Regions from separate parts of the Homo sapiens genome. Here regions 2, 3 and 4 are each linked to region 1. The links come from fine-mapping of genetic effects on gene expression. A gene starts in region 1. Each other region holds a variant in brackets. All regions are shown on one strand. Distances are between the middles of the regions. Region 1 holds the start of PRPF6 (pre-mRNA processing factor 6). Region 2 has its middle 4.8 kb from the start of SOX18. Region 3 overlaps PRPF6 (pre-mRNA processing factor 6). Region 4 overlaps PRPF6 (pre-mRNA processing factor 6).

What was found. PIP is the estimated chance that this variant, and not a neighbour inherited with it, causes the effect.
Region 2: its variant is the best candidate, but not a certain one, in a credible set for the expression of PRPF6 in whole blood (TOPMed, PIP 0.66).
Region 3: its variant is the best candidate, but not a certain one, in a credible set for the expression of PRPF6 in whole blood (INTERVAL, PIP 0.72).
Region 4: its variant is the best candidate, but not a certain one, in a credible set for the expression of PRPF6 in whole blood (TOPMed, PIP 0.63).

What each region holds. Positions count from the first base shown.
Region 1 is chr20:63,977,863-63,982,993 of GRCh38, forward strand. It overlaps PRPF6 (pre-mRNA processing factor 6), which reads left to right and starts at 3,270. Exons shown (of 21, transcript NM_012469.4): 1 at 3,270-3,454. The coding sequence starts at 3,384. SAMD10 (sterile alpha motif domain containing 10) reads right to left here and starts at 1,780. Exons shown (of 5, transcript NM_080621.5): 1 at 1,515-1,780. The coding sequence starts at 1,605. RefSeq lists enhancers at 934-1,228, 1,214-1,729, 2,325-2,384 and silencers at 1,575-1,894, 3,455-3,564.
Region 2 is chr20:64,050,323-64,058,541 of GRCh38, forward strand. It overlaps a transcript of TCEA2 not described here. Among named protein-coding and RNA genes, the nearest start is that of SOX18, 4.8 kb to the left of the region's middle. RefSeq lists promoters at 1-302, 1-94 and enhancers at 2,618-3,307, 4,688-5,377, 5,378-6,067, 6,758-7,447, 7,448-8,135. The variant C/T (reference allele first, on the strand shown) is at 2,138.
Region 3 is chr20:64,015,031-64,020,857 of GRCh38, forward strand. PRPF6 (pre-mRNA processing factor 6) reads left to right here. Exons shown (of 21, transcript NM_012469.4): 12 at 1,693-1,815. Among named protein-coding and RNA genes, the nearest start is that of C20orf204, 18 kb to the right of the region's middle. RefSeq lists an enhancer at 1,669-2,868. The variant C/T (reference allele first, on the strand shown) is at 3,679.
Region 4 is chr20:64,005,744-64,013,962 of GRCh38, forward strand. It overlaps PRPF6 (pre-mRNA processing factor 6), which reads left to right. Exons shown (of 21, transcript NM_012469.4): 10 at 4,457-4,575; 11 at 5,542-5,760. Among named protein-coding and RNA genes, the nearest start is that of C20orf204, 26 kb to the right of the region's middle. RefSeq lists an enhancer at 5,699-6,898. The variant G/A (reference allele first, on the strand shown) is at 4,479.

The DNA of each region.
Region 1 (5,131 bases):
GGGGAAACCGGGCTGAGGATGCTGCTTGCCCATCGCCACTGAAGGCACCCAGTTCACACAGCCCTATCTGGTGTTGGGGCCCGACTCACTGACTATGACTCATTGACAGCCTGAACTGTGGGCCAACTGACAAGCAGGGCTCACTCCGCAAACACGCGCTGGGCTCTCCAGCTGTGCCGCCCCCCACAGGGCCTGCAGCCCGGGACAACACCGGCCATGTGAATGGTGGGTACCCATTGGATATGGGCGGGTCAGCACAGGTATGTGGGGTGCAGCCATTGCTTGGGGACCCACGGTGATGCTCTGTGCTCCCTCTTCCCACAGTAACTGCATTAAAGTGTTTCATCTGAGCTTTGTCATCATCTCTGGGGGCACTGCTGACCTGAGTCTGGGGAGGCAGGCGTCTTGATCCAGGTCTGGTTACAGAGGGGCACCCCACATTCATTGTCAATGAATGAATGAATGAAGGCTCTGTATGGTATCTGCAAGTGAACAGAGCCTGTGGGGAGACAGAAGGTGGGCACAGGCCTGCCCCTGTCTTTACAGCACCCTAGCACCCAGGCCTTCAGCAGGGCAGGTGAGGTTCCCACGCTAGGGCCCTCATCCCATCCACCCTAGAGTGAGAGACCCTCCCGGCCTCAGACTCAGCCACCCACTCCACACCCAGGGCAGGGGTTGGGGATGTGTCTAGGAGGTCTAAGTATCGGTGAAAACCACATCCTACTTCCCCGTCCTCCCACGCCTGTAAGACTTAGGAGACATAACACCTTCCGCCCCCATTCTTGCAACTTTCAGGAACCGGACCCCTGGGTGACTCCAAATTTGAGGTCTGGGGTCAGCAGAGGGTGTGCTCAGTGGGCCACCGCCCCGAGGTGGCCCCTAGTGCTGTGGGAAAAGGCTTATTCTAAGCCCGCGCCTTCCAGCGGACAGGCGCCGTGGTCGCCGGGCTTTGCAGGGCCTCGAGCGGCGGGGCTGGTGCAGAAGCGCGCGGCAGTCCGGGGAAACCCGTCGGACTCCTCAGCCCGCACGGCACCTGCCCCGGCCAAGCAGGCTCCGCCCATTTCCTGCCTGCACTCCCGGAGGGAGTTCCGTCCGTCCCGCGGTCTGTCGGTCCGGTCCCTCCCGCCCCAACGTCAGGATTCCAGAAGGAAATGGGGCGGGGGCACCGAGGCGGGATGTGACCTCGGCCCCCTTTCGGCCCCACTGCAAAAGCGGGGGAGGGTTTTCCCCGTGCGCAGGAAAAGGTGACCCGAGCGTAGTGCCAGCCTGGACACAGGCGCCCCGGCTTGACACCCCCTCACCCCAAGCCAAGGGCGCGCTGACCCCCAAGGCCTGAGGCTGGCTGCCCCCTAAAGCAGGACAAAGGCTACGGGACCCCGTTGAGCCGAGACATCCGCCGAATACCCCCAGCCACCGCCGCTCGAAGCCCGCCGGGTCCCGCCCCGCCCCCGTGCCTCTGGGTCCCTGAGACCCCCGCCCGAGAAATCCCCGCTCCCCAATCCAGCCCCGCTCACCGTCCACATCCCGGCGCTCCCCGAAGCCCGCGCGCACGGCCCCGGCGCGGCCACGCGGGGGGCTCAGCTTGGACCTCAGCTCGGTGAACATGGGGCCCGCGGGTGCCAGGCCCGCGCACACGCCCCTCGCCGAGTGCAGGGCGGCCGGTGTGGCCGGCGGGGAACGCGCGCCGCCGCCCCGCCCCGCCCCAGCCGGCCCCGCGCCCGAGCCGGTCCCCGCGGCCCGCGAGTGTGCGCGACGAGGCACCTGCCGCCGAGCCCTGTGTGCCGGGCGCGCTCCGGGAGCTCCGAGGTGTGTCGGCGGCGCGCGGGCCTGCGTGCACCAAGGCTGTCCGCCAGGGCGAGGGGCGTCCGTGCGCCCCTGGGCACGGCTCCGCGGAGGAGAGTCCCCGTGAACCTGCCGGGCGTCCTCTGAGGTCGGGCCCCTCTGTGCGTGGGGGTGGGCTGAGGGGCATCTCACAGGGGTCTTCTACCTACCGGGGCCAGGACAAGGGGCAGGTCAACGCCTCCCACACACTTTCCTCGGTCTCCTACGTCTTTACTCGCCTTCAAATAGGCACCCGCTTCCCCGGAGAAACCAGCTTGACTCTTGCTTACCGCCCACCCCACTGTGAACATCAGGGTGGTTCTCCCTTCCCTCTGCAGCCCCAGAACCTGGCTCAGTGCCCGGGGGAGAGGGGGCGGTACAGTGCTCTGTAACTGAAAGGGGCTTGGCTTGCCTGGAGATGGGGCAGAGGGGAACTCCAAGGAGGCTGTAGCAGGCCGGAGCGGTGTGTTTGCTCCAGGACTCCAGTGAGAAGTGCTGAGATGGGGCTGGGCTAGGGAACTGTGGTTGCCTGGTGCAGCAGCAGGCCAGGCTTGCAACCAGCTATTCGGCTTGCTCTGCCCAGGAGCCTGGGTGCTCTCCCTGGGTGTATGTAGGGGCTCTGGAGGATGTCTTACAGCAGGAGGACCAGAGATGCACACAGACATGTAGAAATGCATGCACAGAGTACAGTCATGCACTTGCACCCAAAACACGAGCACACGTGACCTCTGTGCACACACCCCACTAATCACACACACAGAATTCACCCACATGCTTGACAGCCATGTTCATGTACTGACGTGTTCCCGACAGCTCAGCTGCGGTTATTTATTTCGTCAATTAGCTCTCCAGGAGCTAAGGATGTGGCCCTCACCAGAATGTCCAAGGCATGTTGGCGGGCGTGGGTGGGGTCTCTAGTCCCACTGGAGGGACAGATGCCTGAATGGGGGTTCAAGAATATGAGTGCTAAAAGCGTAGGGCAGCAGTGTGCGCACAGGACGCACACAGACAGGTGTGCCCATAACCAGTACACACAAGCTCTACACAACTGGACAGGGTACAGCTCTGCTCGGACAGGGCGCACCAGGGGCGAGGGCGGGCAGCTGGGCTGGTTCAGAGGGAGGGGGCCATGGGTTCAGAGGGAGGGGACCATGGGTCCCACTCTCACAGACAGGTCTCCGGACTGCATCAGAGCACTCGGGAAGCAGCAATGCCCCAGGCTGTTTTTAGCCCCCAGGGGCCAGTTAGGGTCCCAGTGCAAGCTCGACCTAGCTTCTTCCGCCTCTCCACGAGGAGGCGCTCCCGCGCACGCGCCTACCACGTTCCTGCCCCCTAGCCGCGGCCGGAAGTCGTCGAACCAGGACGTCGGGACTTCCGCCCAGGGAATCAAAAGTGGGCGGGGCGTGTGCGGACTGAGCGCTCTGCTTCCGGGGCGCGGGTGACGCGACGACGGCGACACTTTGCTACGGAGTGCATCGGACGTCGAAGCCTAGAGTCTCTGCGTCTTTCCCTCTTCCGCTGCCTCATTCCTTTCCTTCCTAGCCTTGGTCGTCGCCGCCACCATGAACAAGAAGAAGAAACCGTTCCTAGGGATGCCCGCGCCCCTCGGCTACGTGCCGGGGCTGGGCCGGGGGTGAGGCCTGGGGCGGCGCGCGAGGGGCGGGGACCCGGCTACAGGAGCGCAGTGCTTTGGGGCGTGTTTGGGGGCGGGGGTCTATGGCCGCGCAGTCTGAAAGACGCTTGGTGGATCGGCTTAATCCCTGCAGGAAGCAACGGGCTTTGGGGTCAGGACATACCTGTGTGTGCACCCTGCTTGCCGCCTAGATGTGACACATTGACTCTCAGCCCAGTGTTTTGGTCTGTAAGATGGGTAATGCTGTATACGGTCTGCAGTGAGGAGTAGAGGAATCTGACGTGTAGTGGAAACACGCGACCACCTTCCTCAGGTCGGGCTGACACTCCCCCCCCCCGCCCGCCCGCCCGCCCCGCCTTAAGCGTGCCTGGGTCCTCTATGCCTGCAACACAGATGACCACCGTGCGTTGCTGGATAAGTGAGCAGTCGTTATTATCCTATTTGGCTATTCATTTGATGAGGAACACTACTGGGTTTTTCTTGGTGGTGGTATTATATTGGAATCTGTGGGGCACACACAAGCTCACTAAGGAGGGTTTGCTATTACCATAAATAAGTACGTAAAGAGGACCAGATTTAGAACCCAGTGCTTAATGGAGAGTAGCATTGGAGCCAAGTTTAGTAAGAGAGCTGGACTTAGGGCTGTAGAAACGGTGACGATAGAAGAGAAACTGACATTCTGCGTGTGGGAGTTCAAAAAAAGTGAGGCAAGGAGGAAGCCCAGGGAACAGGAGGGAGTCCAGTGTGAGTGGAATGTACAGCGAATAGAATAGAGCTCAGGAGGTTGGAGGGGCCTTGAGCGTCAGGCTAGAGCTCCTGGAGACGTTAGAAAGATCATGACCCTTCAGAATTATTATTATTATTATTATTTTTTGAGACAAAGTCTTGTTCTGTCGCCCAAGCTGGAGTGCAATGGTGCGATCTCAGCTCCCTGCAATCTCTGCCCCCCGGGTTCAAGCAGTTCTCTGCCTCAGCCTCCTGAGTAGCTGGGATTATAGGTGCCCGCTACCACGCCCGGCTAATTTTTGTATTTTTAGTAGAGACAGGGTTTCACCATGTTGGCCAGGGGGGTCTTGAACTCCTGACCTCATGATCCACCCGCCTCCGTCTCCCAAAGTGCTGGGATTACAGGCGTGAGCCACCACGCCCGGCCCAGAATTTTTTACTCAGAGCTGTGTTTTGGGAAGAATCATCTGGCAGAGCATGGGTTGAAGTAGAGGAAGGCTAAAGGCAGGGAGAGGTAACTTGGTTTCCAGCTGTGATGGGAGTCATAGTCTGGGAAGGAGGGATTTTGAAAGTGGATTCATTAGTACTTGGGGACAGACAGGATGGGGAAAGTGGGAGAGGGAGGCAAAAATTACATCATGGTCCCGTGGCATCTGGGACAGCTGTTATCAGCTGAAACCCCCCAGAGCAGCTGTAAGGTGGGCACGGAAGAGCTCAGTGTGGGCCAAGTTGGGTTTAAGGGCCTGGTTGGATGTGGAGGGGGAGATGATCGAAGCCTTAGGGTGGAGAGAGATTGCCTTGGTAACATCATCAGGGTAGGCTGAAACTTTCAGGTAAGCAGAGAAGATCAGAAGTGTTTGAGACTGCAGTTCATTGTCACCAGGATCTTTGGAGGTTTCCCAAAGGTGTTAGAAAAAGAGGTGTTAGTAAGTGATAACCAGGAGTGGAGAA
Region 2 (8,219 bases), 74 kb after region 1:
GGCGTCCTCCCTGCCCCCCAAGGGCCCTTGGGGAAGGGGCTGGGACCCTCAGTGGCTTGCTGGCTCCCCTGCCCAGCCCAGGCCACCGCTGCAGCAAGAGGCAGGGCCTACCTGGGTCCTTCCCACTGGCCCCTCCCTGGACCCTCTGACCTGGGCGGGGGCGGGTTCCGGAGGAGCGTCCAGCTTCCTGAATTTTCACTGTCCCCTTCCTACTCCATCAGGAGGGGATCTGGGCTCCAGAGCTGAGGGTCTCCCTCTGGAGGTCCTCCCCTCCCACTGCCACGCATGGTTCTACTGGAGAAGGGTTGGGTGTCCCCAGCAGCCCTCCAGGCAGGGTCAGAATCTCGCCACCTCGCGGCACATCTCCTCATAGCCTGGAGGCTCCCCAGCTCCCCCCGCCACACTATGCCGGGAGCCCCATGGGTAGAGGCCACAGGTCTTGTGACCCTGAGCCTGTGTGGCCAGAAGCTCTTGGTTCTCTGTCCCTGCCAGCCTCGCTAGGCCACATCCAGCCTGTGTTATGAATGGGGTGGGCCCCACGTGGGCCTTGCAGTGCCCCTTAGAGGCTGTTCCTGAACTGTCCCCAGGGGCACTCCTGCCCTGAGGCCAGCACCCCCACAGGGGCACTCCCACCGAGGGCTGTCGCGGTCGGTGTCCAGCCCTCCCCAAAGCCCCACATCACAGTCTGTCTCGACGCCCATCGTCCCAGCATACGGGGCTGGGTCTCCCAGTCTGGTCTCCAGATCTCCCGTCCCTCCAGTTTGCCCCACGGGCCTAGCACCTCGTTCACAGACACTGAGCCAGTGCTGGCTAATGGGGGGCCCGTGGGGCACCAGGAGGTGCGGCCCCTGGCTTTTCTGGGGAGGCAGGCAGGGTTGTGGCCACAGGGATGGAGGGGCTCACAGGCCTCTGCCGGATGCTGCTAGTCCTCCTTTAATCTCAGTATGGGTGGCTGGACCCTTGGCCGAGTCTCAGTGTGGGTGGGCCTCCTGGGCAGCTGGCAGGAGGGTGCAGGGGGGGTGGGGAGCCGTGCGAAGACCCCAAAGGGCTACCACTTGGCGGAAGCTCTCTCTACTCACAACCTTAGGGTTGCAGTCAGGGGTCACCAGGGCCTGGCTCAGCCTGGGCAGTGGCTGGTCACTGCGGCCTGGGAAAGAGGTCCTCGGGGTCCTCTGCAGTAGCCCTCACACGTGGGGAAGGATTTGCAGTTCCCTGGGGGCCCTGCTTGGTCCTCTGCCACCCCCGAGAGCCCAGAGTCACTGGAGCTGCTCTAAACATAGTGGCAGGCAGTGTCCGGCATGACCTCATCGCCTCCACGTCCCCCACAACACCCACCAGCAGCCGCCTTGCCTGGCGCCAGCCAGTGACCCACCCTCTTGGCTGGGCTGTGGACTCAGGTGTCCGGCTGTCATGTCCTGTGAGTCGGGGCTGGGCGGGGAGCCTCCTGAGGTGCTCCTCTCCCTCTGCGTGGCAGGGAGGAGGCTGGCAGCCCTGGCCCAGTGTCCAGATGGGACAAAGTGGGGGTAGGGACCACAGCCAGGGTGGCGTGATCTGGAGCCGCAGGGCTGGGGGGACTTGCCAGGGCTGTAGAGGGGATGGTGTGGGTGTGGCCAGCTGTGCTGAGGGAGGGGCATCCGATGTGTGTCTGTGCATCTGTGTGTGGCCTGTGTCTGTCTGTCTGCCTGGGTGTGGGGTGAGGGGGACTCTAGTGCTGGAGGCTGCCCAGGGCCTTGAGAGCCAGGCAAGCTGGACGTTCCCAGGAAGAGATGAGGACCCATAATAGGTCCAGGACCAGGGGTCCTGCTCCGTGAAGTTTGGAGGGTCCCCAAGGCTTCTCTGGCCACTGAGCTTGGGCCCCAGCATTCTCCAAAAGAGGGCAGGCAGTTCATGAGTCTAGGGGCATTCCTCTGCCTCTGGAACCCCACCTCAGTCTGTCCTGGACTAGGTGGGCTATGGCCCACCCTTGGGAAGGAGCCTATCTGTAGCCCCCAAGCCCCAGTCAGAAAGGCAGAGTTTGGGGGCAAGCTTTCTCTACAAGGGTGGGGCTGGCCTGGGCACTGAGTGGACACTGTCCTCCTGCCTGCCACCTGCCCCTCTCCCTCAGCTTGGACAGGAACCCCGGCCTCTGAGTGAGGTC[C/T]GCAAAGGATGCTGGGTAGTCCCCCTCCGTGGCTCTGGGTGGGAGCTTGGCTTGGCGCGGCTCTGGGCCGGGATGGCAGGACCTCCCAGCCACTGCCTGGGCACAGACCTCCCAGGATCCCACCAGCCCAGCCCCTGCGGCTGCAAGAGCAGCGAGGCTGGGACCAATTACCGAGTCCCGCAGGGCCTGGACCCTCCTGCTCCTCAAGGGTGAAGGTGGGGGTTCCTGTTGGATGCAGTTTCAGGTGGAGGGGGCTCTCTGGCCTCCCGAACCTCGGCTCTCTCCAGTTCAGATCCTACCTTCTGCCCACAGCTGAACACCTCTTCCTACAGGGAGCCCCCGACCTCCCAGCCACTGTCCTCCAGAGGCCATAGCATCTTGGTCTCCTTCTGTCTGCTGCCTCGGTAGGCTTCCTTTGGGACCCGTGGAGGCATGTCTGACTCCTCAGGAGCTCTGTATTTAGTGGGCCTTGTCCTGGGGTGGCGGCTCCAGGCCTAGTGAGACATGGCAGAGGCCAGGGCAGGGAGAATGTGAAGCTGGGGCGAGGGTCTGTGACGAGGCCGCCTGACGCCTCAGCACCAGGTGGACACAGTTGTGTGCATGTCCCTCTTGGCCAATGACAGGTCCGGTTCAGGTGGCCCTTGCCCAGGGACAGAGGCTTCTCCTGGCTCCGTGCCTTCCAGCTCTCAGTCCTGGTGTGCACAGCGTCACCGGGCTTCCGATAGCTGCCGGCCTCAACTCTGGGAGAGGGCAGGTGGGGCGGCAGGAGGTGCCTGTGCTTTCCTAGGCATGAGCAGGCATGAGAGGTGCACATGCTCCTGCTCACCTGGGCGGCGCCTCTCAACTGTTAGGTGTGGGGTTAGGGTTCACCTGACGATTTGCCGCAGTCCAGCGGACCCGAGAGTTGCATGCAGAGCTGGGGTTGCGGTGCGAGTGGGGAAGGGTCTGAAGGTGTGGGTGCAGGGGGCTGTGCTGGGGCCTGCAGGCTGGGGTGTGCGGTGTGAGTGGGGTGCTTTTGTAGTCTAAGGGGTGATGTGCCAGTCGTCGTGTGGTGTCAGGTGTCAGTCGTCGTGTGGTGTCAGGGTCTCTTCTACTCGGTGCTAAGGGCCAGCAGGACCGAGAGGGGTAGGGGCTTCTCTGGGTCGAGGGCCACAGGGGGCTGGTGGGGGTGGGAGTGCTGAATGCACAGGGTGATGCTGGGCTTCGGGTAGCAGATGTGCTGTGGACAGTCGGGGTCGGGTCATCTGCGGCGAGCGGGGCTTCTGTAGGTGCTCCCAGGGCCCTGGTGATGTGGAAGCTGTTCTCAAATTCTGGGGTGTTGTGCTGTGGTGGGCATGTACCTAGGGTGTTATCAAGGGCTGTGCCCACTTTTAGGGGCACTGGGCAAGAGTCGGGGTGTCAGAGCAGCTGCTTGAGCTCCGTGGGGGCCATTGTGTGGCCCTTGGGGTGTCCTGCCCTGGGGGCGGCTGCAGGGCCGCTTGTGTCCCTGGGTGTTGCTGCCTGCTGTGCGGCCTTCCCAGTGATGTTTGTGTGTGTGTGTGTGTTGGGGGGGTTCCATGGGAAGCAGGCTGGGGGGCTGGGCTGCTCCGGGTTTCTGAGGCAACAGCAGGGAGGGGCCAGGAAACTGCAGCTCAGGAAGGAAGGCCGGCCTTGCAGGAGGGGGCCTGGGGCCAGCTTGGGCTGAGCAGGCGCCAGACATTCTGTGCTGCGGCCCCGGCCCCCACTGGCTGGGAGCTCCTGCCCAAGTTCCGCTGGCCCCACCCTTGTCTCCACCTCCATGCTTGTATGGCTGCCTTTATTCAGACCGTGGTGACTTGGGCTTGGGTCTGTGGGTGACCTGGTCCTGTGCTTATGTGAGCCCCAGTCCATTTGTGGCTCTGTAGAGGCCCAGATGGGGCTCTCAGTGTACCCTGCACCGTGGGGCATGTGTTAGCACACTCCGGTCCCCAGGGTCCCTGGAGGGCAGTGTCCACTCTGACTACCCTGTCCTGGGCTGGCCCAGCCTCCTTCTCCCCTGCCAGGCTGGTAAGTCGGGAGAGGGAGAACATCCTCAGGGGTCATCTGTCTCCCAGCCACGGAGGGGCACTGCAGGGCCGGATGCCTGAAGCTGTGTGTTTCTTTTTGTTGCTTGTCCTGGCATTGGTGACAGCCAGCTGGGGCTGCCACATAGGCTGGAGGGGGCAGGCCTGTGTTCTGGGGGCTCATCCACCCCTTCTTGCTCAGGGACAGGCAACATCTATCCATCCATTTGTTATTGAGCACCTGTTGTGTAGTAGACCCTGTTTTAGGGGTTAGGAATTTGGCAGAGAACAAAACAGACAGGTCCCTGCCTGTGGGAAGCTTCCATTATGGTGAGAAGAGACAGACAATCAACAAATCCACAAACAGGTGTGGTGACTCATGCCTGTAATCCCAGCACTTTGGGAGGCTAAGGTGGGCGGATCACCTGAGGTCAGGAGTTCGAGACCAGCTTGGCCAATATAGTGAAACCCCTGCCTCTACTTAAAAAAAAAAAAAAAAAATACAAAAATTAGCCAGGCGTGGTGGCGCATGTCTGTAATCCTAGCTACCCTGGAGGCTGAGGCATGAGAATCGCTTGAACCCAGGAGGCAGAGGTTGCAGTGAGCCAAGATCGCACCACTGCACTCCAGCCTGGGTGACAGAGTGAGACTCTGTTTCCAGACAAAAGCAAAAACAAAAAACAAAAATTAGCTGGGCGTGGTGGCACATGCTTGTAATCCCAGGTAGTAGGGAGGCTAAGGCACACGAATTGCTTGAGCCCGGGAGGTGGAGGTTGCAGTGAGCCGAGATCGCACCACTGCACTCCAGCCTGGGCGACAGAGGAAGACTGTTTCAAAAAACAAAAACGAAACAAAACAAACCTAACCAAAAACAAATCCACAAACAAGCCAGAACTTGGGGTGCCAGGTGTAGGGAGGGGGGCTGTGTCAGGGCCACACATGGCTTTTGCCCTTGGGGGTTCATCAGGTATAGGGAGGGGCTGTGTCAGGGCCACACGTGGCTTTTGCCCTTGGGGGTTCATGGGAGGAGTCTTTTCACAGAGGGAGGAGCATGTGCCAAGGCCCTGGGGCAGGGAAGTCTGCTGGTGTGAGCAGAGCAGGGGGTGCAGAGAGGAGGGGATGAGGCTCAGAGGGAACAAGGGGCTGAGTTGGCTCTGGGAGGGTCTTGCATTTTCTGAGTGAGGTGGGACCTTGGGAGGTTCTGAGTGGAGTGTGATCTGCCTCAGCTCAGCTGCTACGTGAAGACGGGGCTGTGCGGGGCAGGAGGGACGGGCAGTCCCCTGCCAGAAGGCAGGGGGCTCTGCTTCTGCCGCGGCGGGAGCCTGGCCAAGGTTTGCTCTCAGACCCCATCTGGCTGCCCCAGGAGTCTCCCTGGTCTCTCTCTGGGAGGCCTGGGCCCCTGGGAGGTGCCGCCTCAGGGAACCCTGGTTTTGCTGCCCTGTGAGTCAGGTCTCTAGGCTTCACCCATAGCCCCGACCCCACGGCTGCCTGGGGCCTCTGGGGAAGGGGAGGGTGGAGTGGCCGCCAGGCTGGCGGGCTGGCAGGGCTGCATTTCTGGGAATTGTGTGGGGGAAGTGCATTGTTAGAGCAAGCCTGGAGCAGGCCGCCAGGGCCGCCACTGGCCTCTGGGGATGCCTCTTGCCTCCCCCAGCGTTGCTTCTGTGGGAGGGAGCTGGGACTGGGCCAAGGCTATGGGCTGGGCTGGGGACTTTCCGAGAGACGCTGCCCTGGGCAGGTGGCTCTTCCCATTCTACAGACTGGGCGACTGAGGTCCAGAGAGCCGGGTGCTGCAGTGGCATAGCCAGGAGCAGTGGGCCCAGTCCCCATCCCCTGCCCTCCTCTGCTGGCGCATGGGACAGGGGAGCACTTGCTGGACCTAAGCCCCGTCGCTGCCCTGCTGGTGGGGGCATCCAAGGGAGGCCTGGGTGGGGTCCACTGGGGTCACAGCTCGGCAGAGCCCCCAAGGTGGGCTGGAGGGTCTGATGGAAAGGGGCGCAGAGACGGCTCCTAGGTGCTTGGGCTGTGGGAGGGCTGCCCATGGGGTGGCAGGGGGTGGGGGCTCCTGGGGCTGCAGGATCCCCAGCCCCCGCTCTGTGGTTGCAGGAAGCAAGGGGGGCTCCGTGTGAGTTTGGCAGCGGGAGCCTTCCCACCACGGCGCTGCCTCAGCCAGAGGGGAAGCATGGATAGCGGCCACTGGGGTCATGGCCGGCTTTGGGCGGGCAGGGGGCAGGGGACACAAATAGAAAAATAAATGGCCTGAGTTTCCGACGTTTCCTGGACTCAGGATGGGGGAGGGGCAGGCCTTTGGGCCAAAGGTGCGGCTGGCCCTGTGGGGTGGACCAGGGGTTTCTCCCCAGACGCCTGTTGGGGCCAGGGCTGCCCCCTCAGACCTCCAAGGTGGGTCACATCTCCCCCTTAGAGCCCTCAGGACAGGGCCCCGTTGCCCACAGAGAATTCCTAAAGGCCTATCCATATGTCCCTGTCCATAAAGACGTCGAGTGTGGAGGACACCCTGGAGGAGGAGATGGAACCCTCCTGTTTGCTGGGGCTCGGCCCCCGGTGAGGCTGGCTGCAGGTGACCACAGAGACCTAGCCTGGTGTCGTGCGGCCGCTGGGTCCGTGAAGGGGAGTGAGGCACTCCTCACCCTGTGGCAGCTCCTAGTCAGGAGGCCTCTCCCCTCCACCTGCACGTCATGTGGCTGTGGCTCCCAGGACCAGCGCCTGGAGCGGGTGAGTGAACGTCCCTCTCCTCCGTGGGCACTGCCTCCGCTGTGAGCCACCCTTCAGGCTACGTGCATTTCCGCCTGTTCTCAGGGTTTAACCGAAACCGAACATTAACCGTAGCCCTAACGCGGCTGAGGGATCCAGGCCTTGCCTCTGGGCCGGGTGAGAGACAGACACTCGCCAACCAGTCCGCAGTGGCTCCCCGTGTGTGCGAGGCTCCCGCCTGCGTGTGTGCGTGTGCATGTGTGCCTGCGCACAGGGGAGGGAAAGTTCTTCAGCTGCCGAGGGCGGGAGTAGGGGCTGGAGCAGCACCCTGCGGCGAGGCCCCACAGGAGAATCGATGGTTCTGATGCTGTCAGCCTCTGGGTGCAAATTCTGAGGGCCCGGGAGCGTCTGGCGGCCCTGAGCAGCTTGCTGGGGAAGCTCCGTGGAGGAGGAAGTCCGGAGGTCGGTAAGCTCCAGGAGGGGTCTGCTGGGGGGCGAGAATGCTCTGAGCAAGGTCCCAGAAGTCCAGAGCTCCTGAGGGACCCGGGACCAGGGGCACTGGGGAGTTTCAGGGTTGGTCGCCGCCACAGCCCTCACAAACGAGGCCACTCTCTAGGACTGGCCACCTTCTCACCTCGGCCACTTCACAGTCCTGGGGGGCAGCTGTGGCTCTTGCTGGGAACCACCTGGACCTCCCTGGGGCTTGGGGGTGGGGTGGTGGTGAAGTGAGGCCCACCCGTCCGTGGCTCACTCCTGCCACCTAGAGGCCACTGTTCCTCACAGGCTCTGGGGCCAGTCACCTGCCTCTGCCCGGGGGCGGGACCATCCCACCGGATTGCAGGTTCCCTGATCACCAGGATGGGCCTACACCTCTCCGCCTGCAGTAGTTGCTTCCACGCAGGACTAGAGCATGTCAGGGTTCGGGGCTCCTGTCATAGCGGAGTGGCTGCGGCCCGCAGGTCAGAGGCACCCGACCTCTTCTGCTAACCCCCTTCCCTGCCTGTCCCGTCCGCTCCTTTCTCTCCATCACCTGCCCCTGCCATGAACCAGGCCACCAGTGACCCCATCCACACCTGTCCGACCAGGCTCCCCACGTGCCCTAATGCAGCCCCGTAGGCTGGGCCCACGGCTGACACCCCTTCCTGAGGGATCCCCGACCTGCCAGCCGTTGTCCTTAAGACGCCACAGCATCTTGACCTCCCCGTCTGCAGCCTCTGTGGGCCTCCACTGGGACCCACTGAGACATGTCAGGCTCCTCACGAGCTCTGTCTTGTGTGGCCATGCCCAGGGCCCCAGGACGTAGAAGACCACCTGGCATCTCATGGAGGAGGAAACAGGGCCCAGAGTGGGAC
Region 3 (5,827 bases), 38 kb after region 1:
ACATTGGATTGTGTCTTTATTATGGTCTATGTATTATTTTTGTCTGTTGTTTTATTATTGAGTTGTAAGAGATGTTTTTATATATTCTGGATATATTGTCACTTATCAGAGACATGATTTGCAACTACAGATGGTCCCTGACTTCCCATGGTTTGACTTTTGCCGTGGTTCAAAAGCAGTTTGCATTCAGTAGAAACTGTCCATGGAGGAAGAGCCAGCGCAGTTTGCGTTCAGTAGAAACTGTCCATGGAGGAAGAGCCAGCACCTTTGCCGCAGGCCCCTGAGGGTCTGGGTGCTGGGTCCTTGCCCCACGCATTCTTCTCACCACTGACCTTTGTGCCAGCGTCTCTGCCTCAGATCCTTGCTCTTGGCTCTGCTTTCTGTCTGGGATGGTTTTCTGGTGCTGGCAGGGCCCTGGGAGGGTCTGGGAGGCATGTGGCTCCGGTTGCACTTTGCTCACGGTCCATGTCGTGGTCCCCCATGTTGGCATGCCGCAGTGGTGCCTGTGCTCCTGCACCCTGTTGCTCTGGCTGGGTTATTGTTCTCTTGTTGGTAGACACATTCTCTTGCACACATGGGAATATATTTGTCACATGAATGCCTTAAAGTAGAACTGCTGGGTCAAATATGTGCCTGTTTTATTTTGATAGAGAATGAGAAATTGCCCTCCATAGAGATATGTGCTTCTTTGCAGTATAAGATTTATGCCCCCTTCACCAAGTGAGCCAGTCAGCACATGTTTCAATGTTGCTCATCTGATACGTGCACAATGGTACTTAGAATAGTTTAATTAGCATCTTGAAAATAAGAATAGGGGCTGGGTGTGGTGGCTTATGCACTAATCCCAGCACTTTGGGAGGCTAAAGCAGGAGGGTTACTTGAGACCAGGAGTTTAACACCAGCCTAGGCAACATAAGGAGACCCTGTATCTATGAAACATAATGTACCATTGAGCATGGTGGTGCATGTCTGTGCTACTCGGGAGGCTGAGGTGAGAGTATCCCTTGAGCCTGGGAGTTGGAAGCTGCAGTGAACTATGATTGTACCACAGCACTTCAGCCTGAGTGACAGGGAGAGACCTTGACTCTCTCTCTTTTTTTTTTTTTTCTGAGACGTAGTCTTGCTCCGTTGCCCAGGCTGGAGTGGAGTGGCGTGATCTTGGCTTACTGCAACCTCCGCCTCCCGGGTTCAAGTGATTCTCCTGCCTCGGCCTCCCGAGTAAGCTGGGATTACGGGCACCCACCACCACGCCTGGCTAATTTTTGTATTTTATTTTTTAGTAGAGACAGGGTTTCACCAGGTTGGCCAGGCTGGTCTCGAACTCCTGACCACGTGATCCACCCTCGACCTCCCAAAGTGCTGGGATTACAGGTGTGAGCCCCCACACCTGGCTGAGACCTTGTCTCTTAAAAAAATAAAATAAAAAGGCTTTACATTTCTTTTCACATGTTTGAAAGTTGTTTGTATTTTTATTTTCTAGTGAACAGTGTGCCTATGTCCTTTGTGACATTTCTCTATTGTTTTTTCTGATTGGCGTGCAGTAGACTCACTTCCTCAGATCCCCAGTAGGCAGTGTCAGCATCTTGTGCTGATGTCTGTCAGTTTTAACCGTTCAGGAACTCCGTACTCCCCGTTGGGAATCTGCAGCTCTGATTTCCAAAATCACAAATAAGTTTTGTGTTCCTCTTTCAGGATGCCGAGGAATGTGACAGGGCTGGGAGTGTGGCCACCTGCCAGGCCGTCATGCGTGCCGTGATTGGGATTGGGATTGAGGAGGAAGATCGGAAGCATACCTGGATGGAGGATGCTGACAGTGTGAGTTGGCAACAGGGGCCTTTGTCCGTAATATGGAGTCTCTGCTTGTGGGAACAGCAGGCACCTTATAAACTACTAGGCTATTTTAAAACTCTTTTTTTTTTTTTTTAAATCTGAGACGGGGTCTTGCTCTGTCGCCCAGGCTGGAGTGCAGTGGCGCTATCTCAGCTCACTACAACCTCCACCTCCTGGGTTCACGCCATTCTCCTGCCTCAGCCTCCCGAGTAGCTGGGACTACAGGCATGTGCCACCACGCCCAGCTAATTTTTTGTATTTTTAGTAGAGACGGGGTTTCACCGTGTTAGCCAGGATGGTCTTAATCTCCTGACCTCGTGATCCACCCCGCCTTGGCTTCCCAAAGTGCTGGGATCACAGGCGTGAGCCACCGCGCCCGGCCTCCCAGAGTGCTGGGATCACAGGCGTGAGCCGCCATGCCTGGCCTCCCAAAGTGCTGGGATCACAGGCGTGAGCCACCGCGCCCGGCCTCCCAGAGTGCTGGGATCACAGGCGTGAGCCACCGCGCCCGGCCTCCCAGAGTGCTGGGATCACAGGCGTGAGCCGCCGCGCCCGGCCTCCCAGAGTGCTGGGATCACAGGCGTGAGCCGCCCTGCCCGGCCTCCCAGAGTGCTGGGATCACAGGCGTGAGCCGCCGCGCCCGGCCTCCCAGAGTGCTGGGATCACAGGCGTGAGCCGCCGCGCCCGGCCTCCCACGGTGCTGGGATCACAGGCGTGAGCTGCCGCGCCCGGCCTCCCACGGTGCTGGGATCACAGGCATGAGCCGCCGCGCCCGGCCTCCCAGAGTGCTGGGATCACAGGCGTGAGGCGCCACGCCTGGCCGCAGATTTGCTTTCTTACTCTGTTCGCTCTCATGCACTTACCTCTTATTTTTTTTTCTGGAACTGTTTGACAATGAATGAGTTGCAGATGTGGTGCCCTTTACCTTAAACACTTTGGTGTGTATTTCTTTAAAAGAGGACGTTCTCTTACACAGCCATAGCTCAGTTATCAAAATCAGGACATTGATGTTGGGACAGTGCTGTCAGGTAACTTCAGACCTTACTCAAATCTCACCCACAGGCTGGGCATGGGGCTGACGCCTGTAATTCCAGCACTTTGGGAGGCCGAGATGGGCAGATCGCTTGAGCTCGGGAGTTTGAAACCAGCCTGGGCAACATGGCAGAACACCATCTTTACAGAAACAAAAGCCAGGCATGGTGGTGCACGCTTGTAGTCCCAGCTACTCAGGAGGCTGAGGTGGGAGGATCACTTGAGCTCAGGAGTTTGGGGCCGTAGTGAGCTGTGATTGCGCCACTGCACTTCAGCCTGAGTGACAGCAAGACCCTATCTCAAAAAAAGAAAAAGTCTCACCCGTTGTCTCTGTGTCCTTTTAGCAGAAGAAAAAACCAACTGTCTTCTGTGAGGAATACAGGGTCATCCTCAGGCTAGTCTGGAAGAGAGCCTCAGCCTTTGTTGTTCCTGAGTGTGAATTTTTTGAGGACCACGGGCCAGTGATGCTGTAGACTCCTCTTTCATCTGGTTCTCTGTGGTGTCTCCTCCGGGTTGGGTTGAGGCTTCTTGGTGCATCATACGGAGAGGTGTGCACCTGTTCAACTCCGACCGTCTGGTGCGGGCAGTGGCCGCAGGTGTTTCCACTGTATGGTTGCTGTTTGTTTCTTTGTTATTATTAATAAGTATTTTGAGGATCCATTAATGATGCTTCTTGGCCTGAATCAGTTATTTCTGTGGTGTTTGCTAAATGGTGATTTTTTTTAAATCTTTTTTTATATATTAAATTTTTTTTGTAGAAACAGTATCTCACTATGTTGTCCAGGCTGGTTTCGAACTCCTGGCCTCAAGTGATCC[C/T]ACCTCAGCCTCCCAAAGTATGTAGGATTACAGGCGTGTCACTGTGCCTGGTCACACCTGCATAATGATTTTGTGAACAGTTTCTCTTACATTTTATTAGTTGGAATTCTACAGTAACGAAGAGCTTCACTTTCTCCTTCATCCGTGTGCGTTCACTTCCTTCCATCTGGATTGGTCAATGGCTCCTCCTTTGGTCCTTGGAATCAGACCCCACTGCTGGCATTGACCGTGTGATACACACATGATTCTTTTGCACCCCGTGTGGCGTGACCCAGAGCTTGTGTGCCGGCTGGGCCATCCTCCTGCCCCATGTATGCTAAAATACACACATCAATCCTTAGGTGAGTTAAGACGCAGGGCAGCGGTAATAGTTTTTGTTGTTGGTTTTTTTTTTTTTTTTTTTTGGGACAGAGTCTCACTCTGTCTCCTAGGCTGGATGGAGTCCAGTGGCACGATCTTGGCTCACTGCAACCTCCGCCTCCCAGGTTCAAGGGTTCAAGCAATTCTCCTGCCTCAGCCTCCTGAGTAGCTGGGACTACAGGTGCCTGCCACCACACCTGGCTAATTTTTATATTTTTTATAGAGATGAGGTTTCGCCATGTTGGCCAGGCTGGTCTCGAACTCCTGACTTCAGGCCATCCACCTGCCTCAGCCTCCCAGAGCCACTGCTCCTGGCCTGTTTTTCTCTTATTATTTTGTCATCTCTTTCACATACACTGGAGTAAGCACAGCTGTTTTTCAAAGTGCTCGTGATGCTAGAGTAAGGAGGACAGTGTTTTCTGTGCCCAGAAGTGTGCTGTGGTGCTGCTTCCCTCCCGGACACCAGGGCCCTGGGCACAGCATCACTTGATCCTGTGGGTGTTCAGGCCACTCTCGGGTTGCTTGTGAAGGTCCAAGGAGGCGATGGAGAATCTGAAATGCTTTGTCACCAACCCTCAGGACTTGGATCAGAAATCACAGAGAGGGGCATAGACCAGAGTGCTCTATCCAGGGCCTGACCCTCACCGGCATCCTCCCTGACCCCCTCAGATGCTCCTGGTCAGGACACAGTGCCTGAGGCAGGGCCCTTGCTGGTTTCTGTGCTGGTTGAGTCAGACTGAAGCCATGTGACTTGGGAGGCATCAGGTCTGAGTGAAGAAATCTCAGTGACATCCCCACTCCTCGTCCTCCTGACCCATTTTCATGCTGGGGCTCCTTAACTGGGAGGCTCACTGTTGTCCCTTCCTCTCGTAGAAGGCAGCTGTTCCTCTGGGAACTGTTCTTGGGTGCCCCTGTGTGGGGACTTGGACAGCTTTGAGCTGCCAGTCCAGATCTTTGCCATTGTCATGTTCATAGTTGCAAAACTTTGTTCCTGACCCACTTCCTGGTGGCCTCTCACTTACCTTCAGCAACAAACTCCTTCTTGGTACAAGAATCCTTTCAGCGGCCGGGCGCAGTGGCTCATGCCTGGAATCCCAGCACTTTTGGGAGGCCGAGGTGGGTGGATCACTTGAGGTCAGGAGTTCGAGACCAGCCTGGCCAACATGGTGAAACCTCGTCTCTACTAAAAATACAGAAATTAGCTGGGTGTGGTGGCAGGCGCTTGTAATCCCAGCTACTTGGGAGGCTGAGGCAGGAGAACTGCTTGAACCTGGGAGGTGGAGGTTTCAGGGAGCTGAGATCGCGCCACTGCACTCCAGCCTGGGTGACAAAGCGAGACTCTGTCTTTAAAAAAAAATCCTTTCAGCATCTGCAGGGCGCAGAGGACGGTGACTTGCCCCTGTGTGAGGCTGAGTGGGAACAGGTGTCTGAACCTGGCCCAGTGAGTCTCCAGGTGTCATGATCGCCAGTCAGACGAACCCCCAGAGGCTTTAGCGCTGCAAATGGTGACTGGCTTTTTTGTTTTCTTTTGTTGTTGATGCTAACCAAAAGATAAAGTCATTCTTGAGTATAGGGAAAAAAAAGCCTGAAGAAAATAGAACTGTGTTTACTGTAGTTCTGTTGAGTGGATGGGTTTTTTCCTGTTTGTATTCACTTGTCTTTTACAGGTTTCTAATTAATGTAACTTTTTATCGTGGTAAATATATACTATACCTAATTTTTTTTTTTTTTTTTTTGAGACAAGGTCTCTCTCTGTCGCCCAGGCTGGAGCGCAATGGCGCAATCTTGG
Region 4 (8,219 bases), 29 kb after region 1:
TTTTATTTTGAGACAGGATCTTGCTCTGTTGCCTAGGCTGGAGTGCAGTGGCATGATCATGGGTCACTGAAGCCTCAACCTCCCAGACTCAAACTATCCTCCAGTCTCAGCTTCCTGAATAGCTGGGACTCCAGGGACATACCACCATGCCTGGCTGAGTTTTTAATTTTTCAAAGAGACGAGGTCTCCCTGTGTCATCCAGGCTGGTTTTAAACTCCTGGGCTCAAGTGATCCTCCCACCTCAGTCTCCCAAAATGCTGGGACTGCAGATGGGGGCCACTGTGCTCAGCCAGGACCCATATCTTTATCCCCAAAGGGTCTGACTTGTTGGTAGTTTTGCTTTTTTGGTGGCTGTAGTTCCCATTAACTTTTACTGGTAAAAGCAGAAATACTAAACTGTTTTTAGGACTGGCCTCTAGATAGTCTCCCACAGTGGGTGGCAGCAACTCAGTCTCGCTTTGGGAGTCAGGGTTAGCCTCTCCAGCCAGGGCTGGTACATGAGGAGGCCAGAGGGAGCTGTGGTCTGCACCCTGGTTGGCACATACTCCCTTTGGAGTAGCTCGTAGCTTGCTCTTTTTTTTTTTTTTTTTTGAGACTGAGTCTTGCTCTGTTGCCCAGGCTAGAGTGCAGTGGCGCAATCTCGGCTCACTGCAACCTCCGCCTCCTGGGTTCAAGGAATTCTCTTGCCTCAGCCTCCCAAGTAGATGGGATTACAGGCACCTGCCACCACACCCGACTAATTTTTGTATTTTTAATAGAGATGGGGTTTGGTTTCACTGTGTTGGCCAGGCTGGTCTCGAACTCCTGACCTCATGATCCACCCGCTTCAGCTTCCCAAAGTGCTGGGATTACAAATGTGAGCCACCACACCCGGCCTTTGGACCAGCTCTCTTGACAGGAGGGTCCAAGGAGGCGGAGACGGGACTCTTGGCAGTGGAGACGGGACTTGTGGCAGCGGAGATGGGACTTGAGCCATTCAGACATCACTGTTTATTCCTAGACCCGTGTGTTCTGGCTGTGAGATCCAGCCGGGATTGGTGTCTATTCACAGCATTTGTGGCATCCTACTGGGCTGCCAGGCCATGGCTCTGAGTGATGGGCACATGGTAAGACCATGTTCTGCCTGAATCGGTGAATTCATATAGCTTCGTCTTCTGGCCGTCTTTCAGTTGGTCAAGTGGACATCCAGATAATAAGGCCAGGGGTGTCAGTGCCAGTGTGCTGTGCAGAACCATGCGTAAACCACAGCAGACTTTTGTCTTCTCAGTCCCTTGACCCTAAGGGACTCCCCAGAGGTTGTCAGTGTGGGCTGAGGGAGGAAAGCGGTTGAGCAGCCACCAGTGCAGGAGGCATCTGCCCCATAGCTTAGGCAGCTGTGCTGCACCTGCCTTCCTTCCACACCATCTCCTGGGTGCCATTTCCACCCTATGAGGCCACTGCTGCATCTGCCCAACCTTGTGGCTTGGTCTGTCAGTAACACCTGGAGTGGGCAGCAGGTTGCTCAGTCATTTTATGTCCCTTAGCTGAGTGTTCATTCCCTGCCAGGGCCTCACAGCCAGCCTGGGGCTGTTTCTCAGCAGGAGAGCAGGTACCTGCAGGAGAGCTAGCTCACTTGCCCTCTCCCCTCCCCGCCTCCCCTCCCCTCTGCCTCCCGTCCCCTCTTCCCCTCCCCGCCTCCGCTTCCCTCCCCGCCTCCCCTCCCCTGCCCTGCCCTTTTCCTCTTTTTTTTTTTTTTGAGACTGAGTCTCCCTCTTTTGCCTAGGCTGGAGCTGGAGTTCAGTGGTGCAGTTTTGGCTCACTGCAACCTCCACCTCCTGGGCTCAAGCGATTCTCCCACCTCTGCCTCCCAGCTAGCTGGAACCACAAGTACATGCCACCACGCCCAGCTAATTTTTGTATTTTTTGTAGAGACAGGGTTTCGCCATGTTGTCCAGGCTAGTCTCGAATTCCTGGGCTCAAGCGATCCTCCCACCTCAGCCTCCCAAAATGCTGGGATTATAGGTGTGAACCACCACAATCAGCTGCCTGGCCTAATTTCTTTTTCTTTTTTTTGAGTTGGAGTCTCTCTCTGTCACCCAGGCTAGAGTGCAGTGTCACAGTCTCAGCTTATTGCACCTGCGCCTTCTGGGTTCAAGCGATTCTCCTGCCTCAGCCTCCCCAGTAGCTGGGATTACAGGTGCATGCCACCATACCTGGCTAATTTTTGTATTTTTAGTAGAGACAAGGTTTCACTGTGTTGGCCACGCTGGTCTCGAACTCCTGACCTCAGGTGATCTGCCCACTTCGACCTCCCAAAGTGCTGGGATTACAGGCGTGAGCTACGGGCTGTACCTGGCCCGGCCTAATTTCTTAACATCATTAAATGTCTACTGCATTCATATTTTTCCAGCTGTCATGTCAGTACCTGCACGGGCACATGCATGCATAACCACATGCACACATGGTTGGTTTGAATCAGGATCTAAGCAAAGTCTGAACATTGCCGTTTGGTTGATGTCTTCTCTCGGTTTGTTGATGGAATTGGGTTGTTTTTCCTTGAGATTCCTCACATCAGGGTTTGCTCACTGCAGCCTGTGAGATTGTTTCATGTGGGTCTCGTTTCCTGTATCCTCTGTTTCCTGTATCCTCTTGTAAATTGGAAGGTAGATTTGGAGACTCATAAGAGTAAGCTTTGTGTTTTTTTTTTCTTTTTTTATCAAGGAAATATTCGTGGCAATGCAAGCAGCGTCAGGAGCTGCAGAGGCTGTCACTGCTCAGTGGCCCCAGTGTCCTTCATGGAGTTCTCCACAGCCTTTCAGCTCCTGCCTTTGGCAGTGGCTGGTGACCCGTGCCCGCATCTGTTCCTTCATTAGGGTGTGCAAAACGGTGACATTATAATTAGGTCACTCTTTGCTTTTATTGCCAGAATTATTCTTAAGAGAAGAATTTTCCTATATCCATGATTTGGTTATTCTGAGTTTATTTGGGAAAGACAGAATAGATATTTGATTTGCTTCCTTTCAACTTTCGGGATGATGCGTTGATTCTCTAGCATTCTCCAAAGGTGACTAATGGTCTCTTGGAGCTTTGTTATGAACTATTGAATGCTGTGGTATTTCATGGGTTTGAATACATTGCAGGTAATATTCTTAATATGCTTATTGACCTTCAGACTCTCTGATCATTGTCCAGTGGAAGTCTCTTCTAGTTTGCTCTTGAATTTTTTTTAAGTTTTAGGTATTTTTATTTAAGGGAAAACATGTAATAATGAGGTATTTTAGGTCGGGCGTGGTGGCTCATGCCTGTAATCCCAGCACTTCGGGAGGCCGAGGCGGGCGGATCATGTGGTCAAGAGATCAAACCATCCTAGCCAACATGGTGAAACCCTGTCTCTGCTAAAATTTCAAAAATTAGCTGGGTATGGTGGCTGCACGCCTGTACTCAGCTACTTGGGAGGCTGAGGCAGGAGAATCGCTTGAACCCGGGTGGCAGAGGTTGCAGTGAGCCGAGATCACGCCACTGCACTCCAGCCTGGCGACAGAGCGAGACTCCATCGCAAAAAAAAAAAAAAAAAAAAAAAAGAGAGGTATTTCAGACACTGGCATTTTTTCGTAAATATTTGAAGTGAATTACGTAGATCTTAAGTGTGCAGTTTGATGTCTTCACAAGTGCATGCACCCCTGTAACCCACACTCGACCAAGGCATAGAGCATTTCCAGGGTGGGCACCGTGGCTGACGCCCATAATCCCAGCACTTTGGGAAGCCGAAGCGGGCGGATCACTTGAGATCAGGAGTTTGAGACCAGCCTGGCCAATATGGTGAAACCCCGTCCCTACTAAAAATACAAAAATTAGCCAGGCGTGGTGGTGCGCACCTGTAGTCCCAGCTACCTTAGAGGCTGAGACAGGAGAATCTCTGAACCCAGGAAGCGGAGGTAGCAGTCAGCTGAGATCGTGCCATTGTACTCCAGCCTGGGCAATAGAATGAGACTCTGTCTCAAAACAAAAACAAAAACATTTCCATCCCCGCAGAAAGTCCCCTGGTGCCTCTCAATCAATCCATACTATCCCCATTCGTTGGCAGTCATGCTTCTGACTTATTTTACCAAGATTAGTTTTGCCTCTTTTCAGACGTCACATAAAGGGAGTCATATAGTATAAACTGTTTTGGGACTGGTTTCTTTTGTTCAGCATGTTTTTGAGGTTCATTCCCGTGGTCACTGGTTTCCTGAGTCCTGTTGATATGACCCTGGCAGTCTTCAGTCACTTCCTTGCTTTCTGCTACCACAAGATGCTCCGTTTGTCCTTGTTTGTGTCTGCCCCAGACCTGAAGGAAGCCACATAAAGGGCAGGTGTGTGGTCCCTGACTGTCAACCAGGGAAGTCCGTCTCATCCTGACCAGCAGCATGCTCACCACATGAGCCTCCTGTTTTTATCTCCTTTTCTGTGACGTGGTTTCTCGTTTGACCTTTCCTAGCCCTCGAGCATGTTCCAAACTC[G/A]GTTCGCTTGTGGAAAGCAGCCGTTGAGCTGGAAGAACCTGAAGATGCTAGAATCATGCTGAGCCGAGCTGTGGAGTGCTGCCCCACCAGCGTGGAGGTGAGTCTGGCGGGCTCAGGGCCACCAGAGCCCAAAGTGGCCAAGGCCTGAGCCCAGGTTCAGTGTCTGGAAGTGATGATACAAGTGGAGCATTGAGCTCACTCAGGCTGCAATTTCTGGGAGCAGAAGGCCCTGTGGAACCCCAGGATGCCGTTCTGTACATAGCCGCTAGGCAGGGTGGTCAGTGGCCTCAGCTAGCTGTGCTCTTAATGGACGTGCAGGGAGAATCTTAGCTCATACCTGACCACTGCAGAAAATTCTCTGTTGGGCAGTTGCTCAGGGGCCATTTCCTCTCAGCAGCCCAGAGTTTGTCATGGGAGCCGAAGGTGGCAGCGTGATAGAAAACATTGCTTTCTGTCAGCTCCGCATGACTGCTCTTTGCCTCTAAGCTAAGTGGGATTTCTTTGGTTTTAAGCATTCCAGTTCACAGCATTCTGTGCAGTGATTTTTAGTCTTGGTTTTATGATACCTAGTATGTCTTTAATTATCCTAAGGGGTATTGTGAAATTCTCCAAACAACATTAATCTTATTTTATTTACATAAAAATGAATAAAGCCCGTACACATCTTAGGGATGGAATGCTGCAGAACCAAGGGTCTGGGAACTTCAGGAGGCTGAACACCCTTCTGTGTGTTTAGCCTGTGAGGGCAGTAGCCTCATCCTGCTCGTCTGTGCCAGCCCCTGGTATCAGGTCTGGCGTGCTGTGTGCCTGGAGGCTGTGTTTGTGAACATTCAACTGAGAATCTTTTGATGCTCACGAGAGTCACTAAATGAGTCAGAAGCATAAAGGAACAGTTGGTCAGGTGAGAAGTGCTGCTGTGGACACTTCTCAGGCCATGTTCAGATGGTTCTCGAGAGCTAAGAAAGAACGTGGTGGCCAACGCTGGAGGGTGGGTCGCTGTCTGGCCTGCAGCTGTCCCCCCAGCACAGTGTCCTCTCCTTTTTCTCGTGTCCTCTCCGCGTAGCTCTGGCTTGCTCTGGCAAGGCTGGAGACCTATGAAAATGCCCGCAAGGTCTTGAACAAGGCGCGGGAGAACATTCCTACAGACCGACATATCTGGATCACGGCTGCTAAGCTGGAGGAAGCCAATGGGAACACGCAGATGGTGGAGAAGATCATCGACCGAGCCATCACCTCGCTGCGGGCCAACGGTGTGGAGATCAACCGTGAGCAGTGGATCCAGGTGGGCCGCAGGCGGGTGTCGTGGTGTCTGCTTTAACAGTGCACATGCAGCACGTGAGAGTCCCACGCAGGACTGGGGGTTGCTGGATGGTACTGGGGAGTCCTGTGCCAAACCAGAAGCAGGCACAGGTGTGAATGGGCCCTGAGGGACCTGGGCATGCCCACTGTCGCTCTTGATGGATTCAGGCCTGGAGTTCGTCTTGGGGTGAACACTTCAGAAGCCCTTTCAGTGTGTGCACACCTGACTGCATTTCTTTGCTAGTAGAAATGATACACCTACGAGAGGAGGACAGGAAGTCTCATGGCTTCTTTCTTTGCTAGTAGAAATGATACACCTACGAGAGGAGGACAGGAAGTCTCACGGCTTCTTTCTTTGCTAGTAGAAATGATACACCTACGAGAGGAGGACAGGAAGTCTCACGGCTTCTTTCTTTGCTAGTAGAAATGATACACCTACGAGAGGAGGACAGGAAGTCTCACGGCTTCTTTCTTTGCTAGTAGAAATGATACACCTACGAGAGGAGGACAGGAAGTCTCACGGCTTCTTTCTTTGCTAGTAGAAATGATACACCTACGAGAGGAGGACAGGAAGTCTCACGGCTTCTTTCTTTGCTAGTAGAAATGATACACCTACGAGAGGAGGACAGGAAGTCTCACGGCTTCTTTCTTTGCTAGTAGAAATGATACACCTACGAGAGGAGGACAGGAAGTCTCACGGCTTCTTTCTTTGCTAGTAGAAATGATACACCTACGAGAGGAGGACAGGAAGTCTCACGGCTTCTTTCTTTGCTAGTAGAAATGATACACCTACGAGAGGAGGACAGGAAGTCTCACGGCTTCTTTCTTTGCTAGTAGAAATGATACACCTACGAGAGGAGGACAGGAAGTCTCACGGCTTCTTTCTTTGCTAGTAGAAATGATACACCTACGAGAGGAGGACAGGAAGTCTCACGGCTTCTTTCTTTGCTAGTAGAAATGATACACCTACGAGAGGAGGACAGGAAGTCTCACGGCTTCTTTCTTTGCTAGTAGAAATGATACACCTACGAGAGGAGGACAGGAAGTCTCACGGCTTTCTTTGCTAGTAGAAATGATACACCTACGAGAGGAGGACAGGAAGTCTCACGGCTTCTTTCTTTGCTAGTAGAAATGATACACCTACGAGAGGAGGACAGGAAGTCTCACGGCTTCTTTCTTTGCTAGTAGAAATGATACACCTACGAGAGGAGGACAGGAAGTCTCACGGCTTCTTTCTTTGCTAGTAGAAATGATACACCTACGAGAGGAGGACAGGAAGTCTCACGGCTTCTTTCTTTGCTAGTAGAAATGATACACCTACGAGAGGAGGACAGGAAGTCTCATGGCTTCTTTCTTTGCTAGTAGAAATGATACACCTACGAGAGGAGGACAGGAAGTCTCATGGCTTCTTTTACTCTTCCCCTCTCCCCCACACCCTTTTTTTTTTTTTTTTTTTGAGAGGGAGTCTTTCTGTCACCCAGGCTAGAGGGCTAGAGTGCAGTGGCACGATCTTGGCTTACTGCAACCTCCACCTCTTGGGTTCAAGCAGTTCTCCTACGTCAGTCACCTGAGTAGCTGGGATTACAGGCACCCGCCACCATACCCAGCTAATTTTTGTATTTTTAGAAGAGACAGAGTTTCACCATGTTGGCCAGGTTGGTCTCGAACTCCTGACCTCAAGCAACCTGCCCGCCTTGGTCTTCCCTGTCTTTTATCTTTGTCTGTAGACTTAAGGCTATAGAAAAGTTTCCAAAGATGATCTAACTTAGGAAGTAGGGCTTGGGTTCCCTCTAATGCCTTCTTTTAAGGAGTCACCCACTGAGTTATGTTTCTCTCAAGAAAAATAAATAATGAAATTACTATTTTCTGTTATATTTTATGACAGTTTGTCTTTCTTTCCTTCCTTCCTTTCTTCTTCTTTCTTTCTTTCCTTCTTTCTTTCTTGAGACAGGGTCTCGCCGTGTTGCTCAGGCCGGAGTGCAGTGGTGCAGTCATGGCTCACTGCATCCTTGACCTGGGCTCAAGCAATCCTCCCGCCTTAACCTCCCAAGTGGCTGGGACTACAGGCGTGTGCCACCATGCTTGGCCAATTTTTTTTATTTTTATTTTTTGTCTTGTTATGCTGCCCAGGCTGGTCTTAAACTCCTGGCCTTAAGCAATCCTGCCACTTCAGCCTCCCAAAGTGTTGAGATTACAGGCATCAGCTGCCATACCCAGCATATGACAGGTTATTAAGCTATAACTAGCGTTCTACAGAATCCACCCATTTAAAGTTTACGATTCAGTGGTTTTAGTATATTCACAGAGCTATGCGCTATCACCACAATCCTAGAACCTTCTCATCACCCCAGAAAGAAATCCTGTGTCCGTGAGTTGTTGCTCCCCATTTTCATACCTCTGTAGCCTTTTGTTTTTGTTTTTGTTTTTTTTTTGAGACAGGGT